2 separate regions of the Homo sapiens genome follow, and region 2 is linked to region 1. The links come from fine-mapping of genetic effects on gene expression. A gene starts in region 1. The other region holds a variant in brackets. All regions are shown on one strand. Distances are from middle to middle. Region 1 holds the start of OAS3 (2'-5'-oligoadenylate synthetase 3). Region 2 overlaps DTX1 (deltex E3 ubiquitin ligase 1).

Region 1 (10,094 bases):
GGGGAAGAAATCTGGTAACATGGGAGTCGGGGGACTGGGAAGAGAGCCTGGAGCTTTTCAGGAGGCAGGGAAGAAGAGCGGCACTCCAGAATGCAGTGGGAGAGTCCCTCCATCCCAAATGGCCAGGCAGTCCCTAGAGCAACAGCTCAAAGAGGAGCAGCTGCATTCCAAGATGGTTAAACAGGAAAGTTGCTTCCAGCTGAGTCAGCAGTGCCTGCAGCCTGGCAACTCTCTCCTCCCTGAGCCTTCCTCAAAACACCACTCTACATATCCTTAATTAAGAGGTGTCACGGAGAGGAAAACGATGCCCAAGAAATAAAAGGCAAAAAGCCCTGATCCTTTAGCAGTGGTTGTTGATATTTTTTACTACAGGCCTGGCGCTGTGGCTCACACCTGTAATCCCAGCACTTTGGGAGGCCAAGGTGGGAGGTTCACCTGAGGTCAGGAGTTCGAGACCAGCCTGGCCAACAAAATATACAAAAATTAGCCAGTCATGTTGGCACTCGCCTGTAATCCCAGCTACTCCAGAGGCCGAAGCACGAGAATTGCTTGAACTCAGGAGGCAGAGGTTGCAGTGAGCTGAGATCGTACCACTGCACTCCAGCCTGGGGGACAGAGCGAAACTCTGTCTTAGAAAAAAATATATATTTTTTTTACTGCATACTGGGCACTGGACAGAAGGTCTTTACATGTATCCCCACCACAACCCTATGAGGCAAGTACAGTTCTTCATCCCACTTGATAGCTGAGGAAGCTGAGGCACAGAGAAATTCCATGATTTGCCCAAGGTTACACAGCCAGCATGCGATGGAGGCAGGATTTGAGCTCAGAGCCAGTGGACTTTGCAGGGTGCGCCTTTTCCGCCACCACTCCCATGGGCATGGCTTGGGAGAAGTAAACACTTTCCATAATTCCCTGAGGTTGCTGCTACCGCTTGCCTGCTGTGTGGCTTTGGGTGGGTCACTGTATGTCTCTGAGCCTCAGTTTCCCCAATGGTAAAATTGAAGCTGAAACAGTACAGACCTCATAAGTTTGTTGTGAAGAATTGATGAGATAAAACATGTCAAGTTCTTGGAATAGTTAAGCATTTAATAAGTAGTAACTATTATGATTAATATATGTGTACCCAGGCTGGGTGGGGTGGCTTGTGCCTGTAATCCTAGCACTTTGGGAGGCTGAGGCAGGTGGATCATTTGATCTCAGAAGTTCAAGACCAGCCTAGACAACATGGTGAAACCCTATCTCTATAAAAAATACAAAAATTAGCCAGGCATGGTGGTGCATGCCTGTAGCCCAGCTACTCGGGAGGCTGAGGTGGGAGGATTGCTTGAACCCAGGACGGAGGTTGCAGTGAGCCAAGATCATGCCACCACACTCCAACCTGGGTGACAGAGTGAGACCCTGTCTTAAAAATGTGTGTGCGTGTGTGTGTGTGTACCCAGTATGTGGGTACACTAGGCTTAGGGTACCAGGCATAGGGGATGTGGCTATCTGCCCAAAGGATAAAGCTATCCCCCAGATCATCAAGGTAAATAATAATAATAATAATAATAACAATAATAATAGAAACAACAACAATAATAGAAATAATAATAATAGTAAACACTCTTACAACCCTTATCACATGCTAGACATTCTTATTTCTTTTTTTTTTTTAAGAAGAGTCTTACTCAGACAGATTGTAGTGGCAAAATCACAATTCACTGCAGCCTCCACTGCCTGGGCTCAAACAATCCTCCCACCTCAGCCTCTCCAGTAGCTGGGATCAGAGGGAGGCATGTACTACTACACCTGGCTATTTTTTAAAATTATTATTATTTGTAGAGACTAGATCTTGCTATTTTGCCAAGGCTGATCTTGAACTCCTGGGCTCAAGCAGTCTCTAACTTGGCCTCCCGAAGCTGGGATTACAGGCATGAGCCACTGCGCCTGGCCCACTAGACACACTTCTAAGCTTGATTACATATATTAATGCATTTAATTCTTCTGACAACTCTATAAGATTACTATTATCCCCATTAGTATTATCCTCATTTTACAGATGAGGACACAGAGGCCTATTTTTATCTTAACTCAAGCATACGTGTATTACGAAGGAGAACACAAAAATCACATTGATGTTTTCAACATAAAATACAAGATTTTGCAGAATTCTGGTTTCGTCCCCAGGCCCCTACTGCTAGCCACATGTCCACTTGGCTTAGCTTTCGGGAGTATTTGTGGAAGGGCTGAGCAGTAACCGCTCCAGGCAGTGGCTGAGGGAAACTCCCAGATGCCTGTGGGAGGGCCAAGCATCTTGACAGCAGGACCACAGATCCAGGAGGAACTGGGGTTTCTCTGCCTTTGTCTGGCACAAGTCCAATATGTTTAGTCCCCAGACTGAGGCTGAGAGAGGGGTAGAGGCTGGCCCAGGTCAAACAGCAAGTTGGTGGCTGGGCTAGAATTGGAAGTCCTGTGTTGTTCCCAATGATCTTTTGCCCCCAACCCTGGAATGGTCTAGGAACCCCTCACCCAGGACATTGAAGGCAGGCACCAGGCTAACATCCATCCAGTCCTCAAGATCTACGGATGTCAGGCGGAACTGCAGGGCCCCAGGCACGCTCTGCTCAGGAAACGTGAGTCTCAGACCAGGGACTGGGTTCTGCCACCAGGATTCCAGCGATGCCCGCATCTCACTGAGGATCTCTGCACGGCGGGCCCTCTGGTCCACATAGCTCTTGAAGCAGTCGAGGAAGATGACAAGTTCAGAATCACAGCCACCCTTGAGAGCTGTGCCCCGGCCCGAGGAGCCTCCCTGGGCAAAGAAAAATAACTCAGAATTTCATACTGTCCAATTCTAGTGGCCTTGCAACCTGGCAGGCAACTTGAGTGAGGCAAGTGTGCTGGGGAGAGACTGTGGCCACATGGCTGTAGGCATTGAAGCCACGCGGGAATGTGGGCCCAGGGTAGCCAGGCTCGAGATTTCAAGAGAAGCAATTTTAACATGTAAACTCATGATTTTTTTTCCATAGAAACAGGGTCTTGTTCTGTCACCCAGGCTGGAACACATAGCTCACTGCGGCCTTGAACTCCTGGGCTCGAGTGATCCTCCTGCCTCAGCCTCTCAAGTAGTTGAGACTACAGGCACACGCTACCATGCCTGGCTAGTTTTTACATTTTTTTAAAGAGATGGGGTCTTGCTATGTTGCCCAGGCTGGAGTGCAGTGGCTATTCACAGACACGATTGTAGCTCACTGCAGCTTGGAATTCCTGGGCTCGAGTGATCTTCTTGCCTCAGCCTCCCAAGTGTCTGAGACTATAGGCATGCACCACCGTGCTGGGCTAAATCCATACTTGTAATTTTATTTTTATTTTTAGTTTTGAGACAGAGACTTACTCTGTTGCCTAGGCTGGAGTGCAGTGGCACCATCTCAGCTCACTGCAACCTCCATCTCATGAGTTCAAGTGATTTTCCCACCTGAGCCTCCTGAGTAGCTGGGACTACAGGTGTGCGCCACCATGCCTGGCTAATTTTTGTATTTTTAGTAGAGATGGGGTTTCACCATGTTGGCCAGACTGGTCTCGAATTCCTGACCTCAAGTGATCTGCCCTCGTTGGCCTCCCAAAGTGCTGGGATTACAGGCATGAACCACCATGCCAGGCCTATATCCATGATTTTTAAATGTTGGCAACTAACTTTTTAAAAACTCAAGACCGCAGGTAAAACAAATTCTGCTTTGCAGAACACACATTTGCAATCTTTGCTCAGAATGGGTACAGAACTGTGGTATGACTCAATTTCTGAGACCTGTGTGATTAGTGTTTCTTTCGGCAAAGCTTCCAACCTGAGGATTTGGAAAAGAAACTCCTAAACATTGTCAGAGCCACTGTTCTGTGTCTGGGATCTGACGTCTCTAATCTCACTTCCAACACAAAACAACTGTGATGTAGTTACATGTGGCTGCAGATATGGGGAGTGAGGCTCAGATGGTGAAATGAGTTACACAGCCAGTAAACAGCAAGAACCAGGATGGAGCCCTCCAGGAGCAAGGCTTGCCTCAAACTGGGACCCCCTACTTATCCCGATGATTATGCCAGTCCTTTTACTACCAGCTCCCACCATCTGGGGGCTGCTGACAAAGTGGGAACAGGGAATATTACAGGCTGGGCACTTCCTGCACGTTTTGCACACTCTCATCTCATTGAACCTTCCTCACAGCCCCAGAAGGAAGGTACCACTTTACAAAAGAGGAAACGAAAGCACAGGGAGATTGCACCGTGCTCACTTTACAAAGGAGACAATGAAAGCACAGGGAGATTGTGCTCCAGAACCCCCTCCCACCCCTTTCCAGGGAAGCTAAGGATGCCAGGGCTTTCCCTTGCTGCACAGAAATCCCTCCTGTCCATCTCCAAGGTAGAAACGGGACTTCACACCTCCTAGGCGACAAGTGTCTCCTCCTTCCCCACCTCCCAAGCTGAGAGTCAGCCCCAGGAAACCACTAGGTGCTCTGAGGCCATTTCTACTCTGCGTTTTCACTCCCTCTCCTGACAACCTCCTCTAGCACACCCAGGTTCCCTCCATCAATCCACTCCTGGCACCCCCAAATCTACCCTGAGGATAAGGTAGCTCATGACTTGTCTCCTCCCTGAATCTGCGAGTGTCCTGGGATCACAGTGGCAGTGTGGCTGTATTTAAGTGACAAAAAGTGACCCGGAGCCTGGGCAACATGGTGAAATCCCGTCTCTACAAAAAATGCAAAAATTACCTGGGCATGGTGGCTCACACCTGTAATCCCAGCACTTTGAAAGGCCAAGGCAAGTGGATCACTTGAGCCCAGGAGTTCCAGGCCAGCCTGGGCAACACGGCAAAACTCTATCTCTACAAAAAATGCAAATAATTAGCCAGGCATGGTAGTGTGCACCTGTAGTGCCAGCTACTTGGGAGGCTGAGGTGTGAGAATAACTTGAGCCCAGGAGGCGGAGGTTGCTGTGAGCCAAGATCATGCTACTGCACTCCAGCCTGGGTGACAGAGCGAGACCCTGTCTCAAAAAAAAAAAAAAAAAAAAAAAAAAAAAAAGATGTGACTCAGAGTAGTAATTTAGCGTCTAGCCTCAGTTTCCCTATCCATAAAACAGGTACAATAATACCTGCCTCACTGAACGTGGGGATGAAATGAGGTAATACTCATTTAATGAGATAATTTTCATTGTTATTTGATAATGTCTCAATAAATTGGGCTACTCTGGCTGTTACGCGGAGTGTTATTACTTCTGTAACCTTAAGGTCTGGCATAGTGTGAGGCCCACAGTCTGTTTGAATGACTGGGAGAATGAGTGAATGAGTGAATGAATGGATAAGAAGCAGCCTCTGAGAGTAGAGATGCAGGAATCAGGCTACTTGGATTTGAATCCTGGCTGGGCCTCTTACAGGATCGGACACGTCACTGTACCTCTCTGTGCCTCATTTTCTCTATCTGTCAAGCGGGCTTAAGAGTACCTACCTGGCTCGTATGTTCGGGGGAGTTAGCACGGGGCTGGCACATTGGAAGTATTTGTTAAAGAAATGAATGAGGTGCACAAGCGGATAAAGCCACCCCCACCGTAAGCCTATGTGAGGCTTAAGCGTCCTCCCAGGACTCCCCTTTGGACACATAAAGACCCCGAGGTGGGACCTCACCTTGACAGTTTTCAGCACCCGCGGGGCAGCAGCACCGAGGCGGCCCCCGCGCTCCCTCAGGGCAGCGGCCAGGGCGCCCAGAGCGCGCCGCGCCTTCTCTACGAACTCCTTCCGCGGCTGCAGCCTTCTGGCCACGAACCTGTCCAGCGCAGCGGCCGGGGTGCTGTACAAGTCCATGGCCGCCCGGCGCAGGTGCAAGGGGAAGCAGGGCTCTGGCGCGGCCTTCGGATTTCTGGTTTCGTTTTCCCGCCCGGCTCTCCGAACCACGCCCAGCTGGCCAGGTCCTAGGTCCTCGGTCCCGCGCGTGGCGTGAAACGGGGAGGGGCGCTGCAGTTCCTGTCTTCCCCAAACTTGGGAAATTCCCTGCTTTCAGTTTCGTTTCTTTCTAGCAGCTCTTGGACCTGACACCCACTTCCTGGTCCCCTTCCCAGCTACGACTTCCTCTCCTTCATCTCCTTGCTTCCAGCCGTCCCTGCAACCACCAGCTCCAACGAACTAATCACAACCTAACAAAGTATACCCACAGAACATATGGGTACATACTGAGTAACGTACTCTGAGCATTTCAGAAACGTGCAGGTTTTACATGGAAAAAAAAGGTCAGGATTTAATAAACGGAGAAGTCCTACCTCGCTGTCTGACTGAGGGATGCGTTCTAAACACCACTACCACCACCAACGATAATAAAGCACACTTGGAGACTCTCACTGACTCCTCCCAACGACCATGGTGTAGGTGCTATTATCATCACCCATTTGACAGATGAGGAAGTCAAGGTACAGAGGAACTAGGTAACTGTCCAAGGTAACACAGCTGGAAAGTTGTCTGGCTGGATTCAAACCCAGCCCAAGCCCACAGAGCTGCCCTCTTCAGAAGCCAACTCTTCCTAAATAATTTATACGTGTAATGCAGTTCCAATAAAAATTCCATCTTTAAAAACTTCAAACACACGATCTAAAGTCTGTCTGCAAGAATTAAAAATTATTTTGGAGGAGAAGGAGGAAGGAAAGTCAGTCAGTTTAGGATGGTACCTTGCACAACAATACTACATATTAAAACATTGTAAAGCTACAATAGGGAAATCCTCTTGGAATGGGCACAAAGCTAAGCGGACTGTAAGCTATAAGCTGCAGAGTGGAGATTTGAATCCAGGACCATTGCGCTTCTATCTTCATGGCCTGTCTCCTTTTTCTGCTTATTTCCTGCTGCTTCTCCACCCGGGTTCCTAGAGACTGCACACCTGAGCTCTCTTCCAGGCCTGGTCCAAGCCATAGCCTATCTCCTCCTCCCCATCTTACTAAAAAACTCCCAGGTCCTCTCTCCTGTCTGCTCCGGGACCCAGCATTTACTCTGCCTCTGAGTACACTTCAGGTAATAGTCTTAACAAGTGCTTCCTGACATCTGCACGGTAACTGAAAGGAAATAGATAGGATCAGAGTGTGAATTTCAGAGGTCATGGTCAACTAGAGGGAGAGATGCTGGGTCTGTAATATGTACACCAGCTAATATTTTGAGTAGTGAATGCTGCATCACTTGGAATATTCAAGTATGGGCAGGTTTTGTAGGTCAGGTGTTGTGGTGGGGATTTAAGTCAAGGGATTGAGCAATGATTTTCATTCTCGCCCATTAATCACAGTCTTCTTCCTGAGTCACAGGCCACTTTAGAAACTTTCCATTCAAGATAGTGGATTGAACACATGCTCAAAATTCTATTAAAATAGCAGCAAAGATATATTAAAAGCATAATGGAAATCAACAGGGTTGGAAACTGAGAAAAAGTGGAGTCAAGGGGGCGGGACATTTGAGGCATTTTTAGAAGATGGAACGCAGAAGGGTCAATATTGGGTCATGATGGTGGACTGAACATATGCATAAGCCTTCAACGTCCATCCCAGGCCTCTAGAGGTGGCAGGAAAGCGATAGAAAAACTTTAATAATGTTGCTGGGTCCTAACCAGAGGTGTCCCAGGTAAACTGGAATCTGAGATCCCTGTCAGAGATATGAGACTGGATGAAGGAGGAAATTGCAGCCAAAACACATAAAGGAGGGGGTACCTATGCAGAGTGGAAAGGCTCTGAGGAGCTGCAGGCTCCAGGCAGTGGATTGAAGGAAAAGAAGGGACCCTAGGTTAACTCTCATGGTTGTCAGTTGTGCTGGCATAGTAATGGCAGCCTCTAAAGACATGTGGTCTCCCGCCCCAACCTTTCTGTGTTGAGTAACAGGCAGCAGAGGTGCCTGCCTAAGGAGGGAGCAGTGAGGGTGGGGCAGAGAGGCAGGGAAGTACACAGCATACCTGGCCACATCTGGAAAGAACAGGAAGTCCTGTATGCAGAAGACTCATTCCTGGCACATCCCCTTTCCTCATCTCTGCCTCCAGCTGCAGTAAGAAGGTACCAACTTCACAGGGAGACAAGCAGAACATCCCCAGTGAGCAAAAAGCACACATCCAAAGGTGCCAAATTATTTTGGGAGATCCAATGCTATGAACATAAAAACTCACATGTAAGGACACTGAAATAATCAATAAAGGAGAAAGAGTCTTCTGTGGTCTAAATTTGTCCCCCAGAATTCATGTGTTGGAAACTTACTCCCCAATGCAGCAGTTGGGAAGTGGGGTCTAACAGGAGGTGTTTGTGTCATGAGGGCTCTGCCCACGTGAGTGGATTATGGCCACTGTGAAAAGAGCTTGGAGGAATGGGCTCATTGTCTTCTGCTTTTCTGCCATGTGAGGACATAGTGTTCCTCCCCTCCAAAAGACACAACATTCTTCAAGGCGCCATCTTGGAAGCATAGAGACCAGGTCCTAACCTGCTGAAGCCTTGGTCTTGCACTTCTCAGCCTCCAGAACTGTGATAAGTAAATTTCTGTTCTTTACTAATTTCCCAGTCTGTGGCTTTCTGTTTTAGAAGTACAAATTGGACTAATACGGTCTTAGAAATATATAATTAATATCCTCAGAGGGATTAGATATTATATCCATTATAATTATTCATTGTATTCATGATTATTCATCATATCCATGAAATAAGAACAGTGATGAAAGTCAACAATCACCACTATCACATTGGAAGTGAAAACATAATGCAAAATAAAACCAAAGATGAACAGAAAAACCGAACCTTCTCCATAGATAGGCTGAATAAATATACCTGAAGATAAAATCAGTAAACTGGAAGATGGAATGGAGGAAATTACTCGAGATTACAGGAAAGCAGAACATAGAAAAGAAAGGTATAAAAGACAACTTATGAGATGTGGAAAACAGATCCTTTCCTTATTCTTATAAATATTTATTAAGGCCAGGTGCGGTGGCTCACGCCTGTAATCCCAGCACTTTGGGAGGCCAAAGCAGGTGGATGACCTGAGGTCAGGAGTTCGAGACTGGCCTGGCCAACATGGTGAAACCCCGTCTCTACTAAACATACAAAAATTAGCTGAGTATGGTGGCAGGCACCTGTAATCCCAGGTACTCAGGAGTCTGAGTCAGGAGAATCACTTGAACCCAGGAGGCAATGGTTGCAGTGAGCCAAGATCACACCATTGCACTCTAGGCTGGATGACAAGAGTGAAACTCTGGCTCAAAAATAAAATAAATAAATAAATAAATAAATATTTATTCAGTGTTTTCTTTATGGTAGCCACTGGTCTAGCACAGAACATGTGTGGTGAATAAGTGAAAAGGCCTCTGCTCTCATGGAATTTATATTCTAACGAGAGAAGATGGACAAAAAATTAATAAGCAAATAGAAAATGTTGGATTCATGGCTAGATAAAATCTTAAGCACAGGGGTTTTCTTGGGGTGCTTGGAATTAGAAGGCATATCTGGACAGGTCACCCACAGTTGTGGGTGTAACAAAATGACTCAGAATGTCTGTTACACATTCTGTTACTTACTACGGTCAAATATATTCTTGGTTGATACAGTAGCAAATCATCTGCTGTTCTCCTTGGAAAACTATTGCTTATTGCCTATATATAAAAGGTGACAGTATCCTCCTACAGATACTCTCTCTCTTTTTGCCTGTCTGCTTAGTCAACTCACTCACCACCTTGTACTGGCCCGGGAAGAAATTGCTGCTGGTTTCTTTTTGAAAAAGAATATTCTTTCTTTCTTTTTCTCTTTTTCTCTCTTTTTCTTTCTTTTCTTTTCTTTTCTTTTCTTTCTCTCTTTCTTTCTTTCTTTCTTTCTTTCTTTCTTTCTTTCTTTCTTTCCTCTCTTTCTCTCTCTCTCTTCCTTCCTTCCTTCCTTTTTTTTTTTTTTTTTTTTTTTTTTTTTGAGACAGCCCAGGCTGGAGTGCAGCAGTGTGGTCTCGGCTCACTGCAACTTCTGCCTCCCAGGTTTAAGCAATTCTCCTGCCTCAGCCTCCCGAGTAGCTGGGATTACAGGTGTGTGCCACCATGTCTGGCTAATTTTTGTATTTTTAGTAGAGACGGGGT
Region 2 (10,094 bases), 120 kb before region 1:
TGAGCACCTGCTGCATACCAGGCACTGGAGAGCAAGACAGTTAAAAAACCTCTGCCTTCCCAGACACTGCACACACTTCTATTAGTTGCCCAGGCCCTGTAAGCATCTGAATTTGCAGCCTTTGTGTAGATGGGTAAGCTGAGCTGCAGAGAGAAACTTGGGCAAGATCACCTGGCAAATTAGAGACAGGCCTTGGACCCAGGCTCCCTGACTGTCATTTCCACAGGGCCAGGTGAGTAACACCTTGGAACAAGTGAACCTTCGCCCCCTAGAACAGAGGAAGCTGGGGAGGGCAATGCTTACCCCAGCCAGGGGGAGGGCCCTGGGAAGGTGGTATTCCAGGTAAACTCTGTGCTTCCTCTTACCGTGCTCTGCTTGCAGTTGGAGGGGGAGGGGACAAAGGCCCAGTCGGTCATCGGGACAAGAGGTGGCTGTGCTGCAGCTGCTGGCAGGACTGTCCTGGCAGCCTCCTTTGATTGCCTCGTCCTTTGTTCTGCATCTCAGGGTGCTCAGCTCCAGGGCCCAGCGCCAGACTCCCTCATGCACCCCGTCACCGGCCTGCCACTGCTGTCTGTGCAGGCAGCAGTAGCAGCCTGGAGCAGCTCCAGAGGGATGATGGAAGGAGCCCAGAGAGGGAGAGGCGCTTGGCCAGGGTGGCCGAGCAAGGACACAACTATGCGGGACCTAGAGGAGACTCAGCTCCTAGCCCGGCAGCTCCTGGGCTCCAAGGTAGGGGACAGTCCTATATGCTGGGACTTCCTTGGCGCCTGGCCTCCTGCATCACACCCATCATCACTCCACCCCTCACCCCCAGAACAGAAGCACCTTGAGGGCTTCTGTGTCTGTCCTGTTGATTGTGACATTCCTAGTGCCCGGACAGTGCCTGGCACACAGTAGGTGCTCATGAAACTCCTGATGAATGAATGAATAGTGACCACAATCACACAAGTTCAGTACTATCATCAGGTCCATATTACAGGTGAGGAAACAGAGGCTCAGAGGCTCAGGGAGGGAGTGTGGTTTACTTAAGGTCACAAATCTCCCCACCCACTACGATTCTTTTTTTTTTTTTTGAGACGGAGTCTCACTCTGTTACTCAGGCTGGAGTGCAATGGCTCAATCTCAGCTCACTGCTACCTCCACCTCCCGGGTTCAAGTGATTCTCCTGCCTTGGCCTCCCGAGTAGCTGGGATTACAGGCGCCCACCACCATGCCCACTAATTTTTGTATTTTTAGTAGAGAGGGGGTTTTACCATGTTGGCCAGGCTGGTCTCGAACTCCTGACCTCAGGTGATCCACTCACCTTAGCCTCCCAAAGTGCTGGGATTATAGATGTGAGCCACCACACCCGGCCTACACACCCCATGATTCTTAGTAAGCAGCTGGGATGGGAACCCAGAGCCTGGCCCTCACCAACAGCATTCCCCGAGGTAGCTGTTTCCAGGTTCCAGGCCCCATGTCCTCAGTTGATGTCAGCCAGAGGCAGCTAGGGGCTGCTGGGGGTGTCTGTGTCAACCCAGAGGCTGGGTGGGCTCATGGGGGTGACTATCTAAGGGACTGGAGCTGTCCTGGGGACTGGCTACCACCGGTTGTGATTCCAGAGCCAGGTGGAAGGATGGAGGCCCAGGGAGAGACAGAGGTGGCGGGCGGAGGCCTGGGAGCACCCCAGGCACCCCCATGCACCAAGAACATCACACTGGAGAGAGAGTTAGGGACCTCAACCCCATTGCCTACTGCCTGAATGGGCACTTGGAGCCACTGTGACCAGTCCTGCCCCAACCCCTTGGCCTCCCCGTGGCCTCCCCGTCCTGGCCCCTCCTCGTCACCCTCTCATCACACCCTCCATCATCTCCCCTCCCAACCCCTCACGCTTCACTCCTTACCACCTTCTTCACCATCCCCTCCACAGCCCCGCTACCTGTCACTTCCGCATCACCTCCCCTACTCCAGCCCCCACGCTTCCCATCACAGCTTCCATCTCCTCCTTCCTCTCCAGGTCAGACTCCGCAGCTCCTTTGGAAGAATGAGGCGGGGGATGGGAGGAAGCTGGAGAGGAGGAGGGAGGGAAGAAGGAGGAGAAAGGGGTGAGGGGAGGAGAAGGAGAGGGAGAGGGCTGCGAGGGGGTCTGTCCCGGGCATCCCCACCCCCAGCCCGGAAGGCGCGGGCGGGTCGTTGATGGTGCTGTCCAAGGTACTCGGTGGCCCGGGCGAGCCTGGGAAGGGCCGTGCGCACCCAGCTGCAGACCTGGATCTGATCTCAGACCCGTCTCTTCTCAGCGTCGGCAGGCGGCTCCCCACCCTCTGAGCTTCAGCTTTACTATGTGTAAAATGGGGTGACACCCGCTGGCTGGGTGAAGGGAACCCAGACAGACTGTAGGAAGTGCCTGAGGCTGCCCCTGCCCCACCTGCTCCAGCTCCAAGGGCCCGTGATTAATGAGGCTGGTCCTGCAGCGTGGCTGTGAGTCCCCCGGGGCCTGGCTGCTAAAGGGCAGCAGCTGGCAGCCCAGCCTGCCAGGCCCCAGTGGGCCCCACGAGGCCTCCTCTACCCATCCCCTATCTCCCATCACAGCCTCCCTCTGCCACCCAGGCCTGAGACCCTCCTCCAGGACCCTGCTGAAGGACCCCTGCTGTTTCCTCCACCTGTAAGTGTTCCTCCTATCATTCTATTTACCCAAATCACACACTCTCAAAGGACTCCTCCTCCAGGAAGTCCTCCTCTCAGAGGCTCCAGGCATACACCATGCACATCCCATGGCTGAAGGCACCGTGCATCTGCCTAGTGAGGCATTTAAATCTTTTTCTTCCTCGAGCATGAGTGCTTACTACGTGCAAAGTAGTATCCTCCAAGCTTTTATCTACATATCTCATTTATGTATCTCATTATGTCCTCATGACAACCCTCCCAGCTAGGGACTATTCTTATCCCCATTTTACAGAGGAGGAAATAAACTCAGAGACGTTAAGGAATTTGCCCATGGTCACACAGCCAGCAAGGGGCCAAGCTGGGTTTTAGGTCTGTATCTGTTGTCCTTATGAGTCAGAGGGTTCAAAGGCTATTTCCATGATATGCATTTGCCTTCACCTTCACTAGACTCTGAAACTGATCTGAAATGGATAGATTAGACTCTGAAATGGATTTTGCCCTTCTCTCTGAGTCCCCAAGACCCAGCCCAGGACCTGGTACTGAGAAGCCACCAATGACTACCAAATACGAGCGATGAATTTAGTTTCAAAACAGGCTTCTGGAGTTAGCCAAGCAGCCAGAGACCATGGGTCTGCAATAGTAGAAATACAGACAGCGTGACTGGTGGTTGGGGAGCACCCACATATGGATTAGCTGGACCTGCTGCTACCAGAGATGGGCCGCTCCCTGCCCCTACACATAGTCTTTCTTGCCCCTGGCATCAGGCCCAGCCCTAGTCTCCAGTGAGGAGGCTGGAGAGAGGGTCCCAAAGGGTCCTGTAACCAGGAGCTGAGCCCTGGAGGCCTCCAGGGTAGTGCAGGCTGTCCCTGCCTTGGGCTAGACCCTGACAACAAGCCCCAAGAGCGCTCTCAAGGGAGAAGGGGGAAGGGGGAAGGGGTTCTCTCAGCCCTGGCATTAAATGTCACCTTGTTTTCTATCCCTAAGGCCTGTCTGGGGGGCCTGGGCTCTAGCTTAGGACTGGTAGGCTGTGTGACCTTGGGGAAGTCACTCACCCTCTCTGGGCCTCACTGTCCCCAGTTGGTGTCTAATTCTGGAGGTGTTTTCCCCGGTGATGGGAAAAGCTCCTCCCATCTGGGTGGTAACAGCCTAAGGGTCTCCAGCCTAAGTGTCCTCAGATAGTGCTTCCTCTCATGGCAGGGACCAGGGCTGAGTGAAGCCCAAGGTTTCCAGGGAAGGAGGCAGGCTGGAAGATCCCAGAACCAGCCACCACCTGCCACTCCAGCCTGTTGGCCAGCTTGGGGGCACCAGAAAAGGCCAGGCTTGCAGCCTCGGGTATGGCATCTTTGGATGGTCCCCAGCTGGCATCCCTCGGCCTCAGCTATCCCATCAGCAGAAGGGGCAGGAGGCTGCCATGCACCCCTCCAGCAGCACATGGAGAGCGACATGGGAGATACCAGGCAGATAGGTGCCCCTCCCCAGCTCCAGTCATATGAGGCCAGGGAGCGAGCTGGGAGCTTCTGCGGAAGTGGCTGAGTTACACCTCTGTCCAGCTGTGTGAACTGGGTGGGAAATTCAGGGTCTGGGTGAGGCCCTCGGAGGCGGCTGTCCCAGTGGCAGGGGATGTAAATGACCCCCCAGGGAAGATGTGGCTTCTTCTCTGGGAGCAGAAAGCCATTCTCAAACCTTTCCCCGACTGCCAGTGGCAGCCAACCCCCTCACCCCAAGACCCTGATGGCTCCTGGGCCCAGCCCAGCCACCAGCTGAGCATACCCTTCGGCCTTGGGCTTCCCATATGTGGCAATCTTTGTCTGTGGGAGGGACGGTTGGAGACAGAGGGAAATGAAGAAAGAAAGCTTTGAGGGAAACCGGGCACTTGGCTCAGTACTGCGAAGCGAGCAAGCGACCCATCCCTCGCCCAGCTCTGACTCTCCCTCCAACCCTCTGCCTGGGACACCACCGTGATTGATCTAACATCATCCAGCTCAGGGTCACAGCATTAGGCCTCCCCGTGGAGGGGCTCCAGTTTCCAGTCCAGACTCTGGGCTCTGGACCTGGAGGGCTTCAAAGGGAACCTCACCCCCTGCAGGGAGCAGTGAAAACAGCCCAGCAGGGGAAAGGTGAGGGGGCACGGCTGAACAAACCGCAGCCCCTGTGGGGCCAGAGCCTGGCTTCTCCCCTGTGGCCCCAGCCTGACACCGGGGCTTTCTTCCGCTGGCTGCACTGCACGGGAGGCACATACACAGGGCATGTGTGTGTCGGCATTGTGCGAGCAGACTGGTGCTGTGTGTGTGTACGCACACGCACGTGTACCTTGGTACACACCACAAGGGGTGGATAAGCCATGCTGGGTGTCCTGTGGCACCAGCACGGTCTTACCCCATGCTCAGGTTCAGAACATGTGGGGCAGGGGTCAGTGAACCTGCAGCACACAGGCCAAATCCACCCACCATCTGCTATCGTGCAGCTCAGGAAGTAAGAATGGCTTTTACATTTTTAAATGGTTGGGGGAAAAAAAAGAATATTTCATGACCCGTGAAAAAGATATGAAATTCAAATTTCTGTGTCCACAACTAGTTTGATTAGAACACAGCCACACGCATTCACTTACATATTGTCTATGCTGCTTTTCTGCTCCGATAGAGTTGAATAGTTACAACAGAGACTGCAGGTCCCACAAAGTTAAAAGATTTATTATCTGATGCTATTAGAAAAAAATCAGCCAGCTCCTGCATTGGGAAACTAGCAAAGCTAGGGCAGTCTCCCCTCAAAGTTCAAGTTCAGCTTCAATGAACATATCAAGAATTTTACAATTAGAAAATCTAGACAGAAGCTTGTGTTGATTTCAGCACATACACATGAGTTTTGGGTTTTACAGCATTATGTTGGAGTGTGTGTGTGTGTGTGTGTGTGTGTGTGTGTGTGTGTATGAAATATAATATTTTCAAGATTCACAGCCAGGCACAGTGGCTCACGCTTGTAATCCCAGCACTTTGGGAGGCCGAGGCGGGCGGCTCACTTGAGGCCAGGAGTTCAAGACCAGCTTGGCCAACAGGGTAAAACCCCATCTCTACTAAAAATACAAAAATTAGCCGGGTGTGGTATGTGGTAGCTTGCCTGTAATGCCAGCTACTTGGGAGGTTGAGGCACGAGAATCACTTGAACCCGGGGAAAGAGGCTGCAGTGAGCCGACATCACACCACTGTACTCTAGCCTGGGAGACAGAGTGAGACACTGTCTCAAAAAAAGAAGAAAAAAAAAAGATTTAAGATCTTTTGCTTGTCTCTCTTGTACCCACAGTGGTGAGCACGTGCTAGATGCACAGTAGATAATTAGTTGATGTTTGTGGGATAAAATCAGCCAGATTCTCTCTGTTCAACCCGACAACCCTGCTGGAGAGGTGATCCTCTCACCCATTTCACGGATGTGGAAACTGAGACCTGGAGAGGCCTGAGGTCACACCGTTGGCACTCAGGTCTGCTCCCTGCCGGTTGAGGCTCTTTTCCAGTGCGTTACCAATGAGGACAAGACGTCCTTTCTTGACATTGTTTTGCTCCTGGGTAAAGCGAGGGAAAAACCCTCACA[T/G]ATCTGGTGAGGAGGCCTCTTGCCCCACTCTCCAGCAGGTTCCCAGGCAGCTGAGGTCTCCTGCCAATCGCAATAGGTTTCCAGGCCTTCCTCCCTCTCTGGTTGGGGTGGGAGGGGGTTCCTGGCAGGCTCCCAGGAGTCCATTTAGGAATGAGTGTTTTTTTTCCCTTTTCCGGCAAACAGGGGGCAGGTGTGGAGTGAACAGCTCTGGAGAGAGGGAGAGGGGAAGTGACCAGAGCTGAACTTCTGGGGGATCCAGTGAGGCTGAACCATAAAAGGGGTACTATTGAGAGAATGGGGCCTGATGAAAGGGGAGTGTGCAAGTCTGGGGACTCGGGAACATAAGGGGATGCTGGGAATAGAAATGGGGGTCCCCCCAAAGATAAGAGGATCAAAGGTAAAGTTGCCAACTTGGCAGCCTTGTGGGGAGTCTGTCCCTGCTTCTAAGGACCCTGCCGCCCATACCCAACCCAGCTAGGTCCCGGAAGATCTCTACACCCAGCATTAGCTCTGAACCTGCAGAACACCAGACCTCCTAGCAAGGAGTGACACCTACCCACTTCTGCTCTCACAGCCCTGCCCTCTACCCCTAGGAGAAAACAGAATGGGGCGGGTAATGTGCAACACTTCCCCTTCTTCCATCAGGTCCTTGGTGCCTCTCTGGAAGAATGGGCACATGGAGCTAATGATGACTTCTACTCTCTGGATCAAATTCAAAGTTCTTTGCGTGGCTGTCCAGGCCTGTACATCCGGTCCTTGCTCAGCTGCCATCTTGCACCATCTTCCCCTTGGTGGGAGATGCATCCCAAACAGAACGGACTTAAATGTCCTCTGCCCCTTCCTACCCCAGGGCCTTTGCACTGGCTGTGCCCTCTGCCTGGGACACTGGCACCCTCACTCATTCTTCAGATCTCTGTTCAAACATCACTTTCTCAGGCTAGCCTTCCCTGAGTACCTCTGGGCCAGGTTTAGTTCATGCTCTCGGATCTGCCACTGATTGTCTCTGTGGTGATATGTTTGCTTGCTCCCTGACCACACCAGGACCTTCAGTGTAGGTCCTCCAGCACAAGACCTCGACTGATGACTTTGTCTTGCTCCCTGCTGTACTCCAGTGCTTAGCACAGAAATTGACACACAGCAGAGATCAATAAATAATCATATGATGGAATGCATGAACAATTGGCACCATCAGTGATGGTGGTCAATGCCTGGAGTTACGGAAACATAGATGTACTAATCTGTACCATCAATAAGCCATTTGTTATGAATTCGCCTGTGTTTCCAGACATGGTAAGCACTCTGTGGGTACCTAGCAATGTTCCGGACTATTGGAAAGTTCAATCATTGCAGAAACTTATATTGGACTGTGCTAGTTAGAAAGGCTGGCCTCCTTTCTAACTAGCATGGTGTAATAGAACTTTCTGCAACAATGCAATGTTCTGGATCTACACTGGCCCACAAGGTACCACAAGACACATGTGGCTATGAGCACTTGAAGTGTGGCTAGTGAGACTGAAGAACTGGATTTTACATTTTACTTAGTTTTAATTAATGTAAATTTAAGTAGCCACATGTGGTTGGTGGCTAACATATTGGTTGGCACAGCTCTAGAGGGAAAGCGAGCATCCTACCAGCCTGGGGTTATTACGTGTGGTTCTGTCATCCAGGGATTCATAGGAACTTCCCCAAACCCCATCAGCTGGTCCTTGGGGGGTCAAACATGCCAAGGATTTCTAGGCTGCTTCTGCACGGCAGGACCCCACCAGTCCCCACTGCCCATGGAGCTTGTCACAGATACCACCGGGCAATGACTCAGGGAGATCTCCCCAACGATGACAAATCTCCAGAACAAAAGAGAGTAGGCCTGAGAGTGGGACCTCATCGATTTTATCTCCATCATCAGCCATCACATTACCACCAACGCAACCATCAACATCACCATCATTACAACCACAACAGGATCACCAATACCACTAAGTAACAGCCACACACAGGGCTACCAGCCACACCACATGGCCACGAAGACTGCCACCAACATCATTCTCTCATTTTCTCCATCATCACCACCCCATCACACCACTTCCAGCACCACCACCAACACAACTATCAATGTCACCAACACCACTGAATCCCATGGTTAACGCTATCACTGACATCACCACCAACACTGCCACGTCACCATCATCCATCCCTCCATTGTCACCAAGACCCCACCACCATCAATACTATCACTGAGTCACCACCAACACAACCGCTAACACTGTCTCCTCCATCATTGCCACCTCACCCCACCATCAACACCACCAACGCCCCCCATCCCCAATTAATTACCACCAGCACGACTCCACCCCACAAACCAACACTTGGAGCCAGTATAGGATACCAGTTAAGAACTTTGGTTCTGGAACTCAACCGCCTGGGTTTAAATCCCAGCTCTGAGTTTAAATCACTCAGCTTCTGGGAGACTCGGTTTCTTCATCTATAAAATGGGACTCATAATAATACAACAATACACAGACTTACTGCCTGTGATTCTTGGGAAAAATCAAATGAGGAAGTGCATGTAAAGCCCTTATTCTACAATCCCATGCTACTGCTGTTCTAGGTTCTGTGCTCAGTGAGCACAATTTTATTTAATCCTCACTCAGCTGTGAGAGATATTGATCTACCCATTTTGCAGATGAGGAAACTGAGGCTCAGAGAGATGATGCAACTTGCTCAAGGCCCTACAGCTTGCTCAGAGGCTGCATTGGAATCCAAGTCTTAAACTGGACAAGGTTAGACTGCCCTGTTTTTCTGGAGGTGAGGCAGGGAGATGGGGAAGGGATTTGGCATCAGCAGATTTACTGGGATTTTCAGCATCCTACGCTGCAAGGTAGTGATGGCTCGGCGGGGCGGGTGGCATGGGGTGGGTGTCTGCTCACCTGTGTCCTGGCGAAACTGGTGCATGGACTGCAGGTCGATGATGTAGGGCACAAGCTGGGCGTCCACCTGCCCCAGGACCACGGAACCGCGAGCGTCCTCCTTCAGCACGTTCTCAATGTGGTGGCACACGGTGGCCGTGTAGGGCCGCCAGCGGCTGTGCTCATTCAGCCACTCCCACACCACCACCCGGGCCACGTTCTGCGGTGGGAAGCCCAGACCATTCACAGGCATCAGCCCACCGTGGCCTGGCCGTGACATGGCCGCCACTGCCTCAGGGGCCAGGTCCCCCACTATTGCAGGCCCAGCTCCTCCTGGGCCTGGCAGCAGGCGGCAACTTCCTCTCTCCCCAGGGGGACAGCAAGGACCGTCTGGCCTCCTTTCTAACTCTGGGTTCTCTCTGAGGCCTAGAGACCTCCGTTAAAGGAATGTGGGATGGCCATCCAGGCTGCAAAGACCCCTTCCCTGTAGAGCCTTCTCCGATAAAGGGTGCTGCCCTGGAAAGCAAGTGTCTCTCTTATGCCGGAGGAAACAGCTCTAAAGTCCTTGGCCCCCTCGGCTGGCTCAGGTAGGGAGTGAGGCAGCCGCCCCTGTTCGAGGTCCAGCCTCTTCCGTGTTGTCTCTTGGTCCCTCTTCCCCGCCAGACAGGGCCTGTCACCCAGGAGGCCTGGGCCACAGCCTGCTGCTCCTGCGGCTCTCAGCCAGCCCTTTGCACTCCCAACTGCGTCCCAGACCCTGCGCCCGGCTTCAGTGGGGCTTCTCGCCTCCCTCCGGTCTGGGCCCCCTTCTCCGACGGCTCCTGCCGAAGGGGGCGTCCCTGCCCCCTTGTTCCCTCTCCACGGTGTCCTGGAAGGCCTGGGTGGCCGCAGAACGCACGGGGGAGGGGTGCGGCGTGGACCCTCGGGCGGCGCGCCTGGACTGCGGCTCCGGAGCTGGGCTGGGGGACG

Evidence for each region. PIP is the estimated chance that this variant, and not a neighbour inherited with it, causes the effect.
Region 2: its variant is fine-mapped to the expression of OAS3 in whole blood (TOPMed, PIP above 0.99).

The regions. Positions count from the first base shown.
Region 1 is chr12:112,934,270-112,944,363 of GRCh38, reverse strand. OAS3 (2'-5'-oligoadenylate synthetase 3) reads right to left here and starts at 5,890. Exons shown (of 16, transcript NM_006187.4): 1 at 5,657-5,890; 2 at 2,512-2,794. The coding sequence starts at 5,833. RefSeq lists enhancers at 4,004-4,173, 5,172-5,341, 5,765-5,934, 5,898-6,207, 6,102-6,271 and 1 more and a silencer at 5,588-5,677.
Region 2 is chr12:113,057,507-113,067,600 of GRCh38, reverse strand. DTX1 (deltex E3 ubiquitin ligase 1) reads right to left here. Exons shown (of 10, transcript NM_004416.3): 2 at 9,150-10,094. The coding sequence starts at 9,408. Among named protein-coding and RNA genes, the nearest start is that of DTX1, 5.8 kb to the right of the region's middle. RefSeq lists enhancers at 33-533, 1,775-2,333, 8,845-9,633 and a silencer at 2,090-2,290. The variant T/G (reference allele first, on the strand shown) is at 6,226.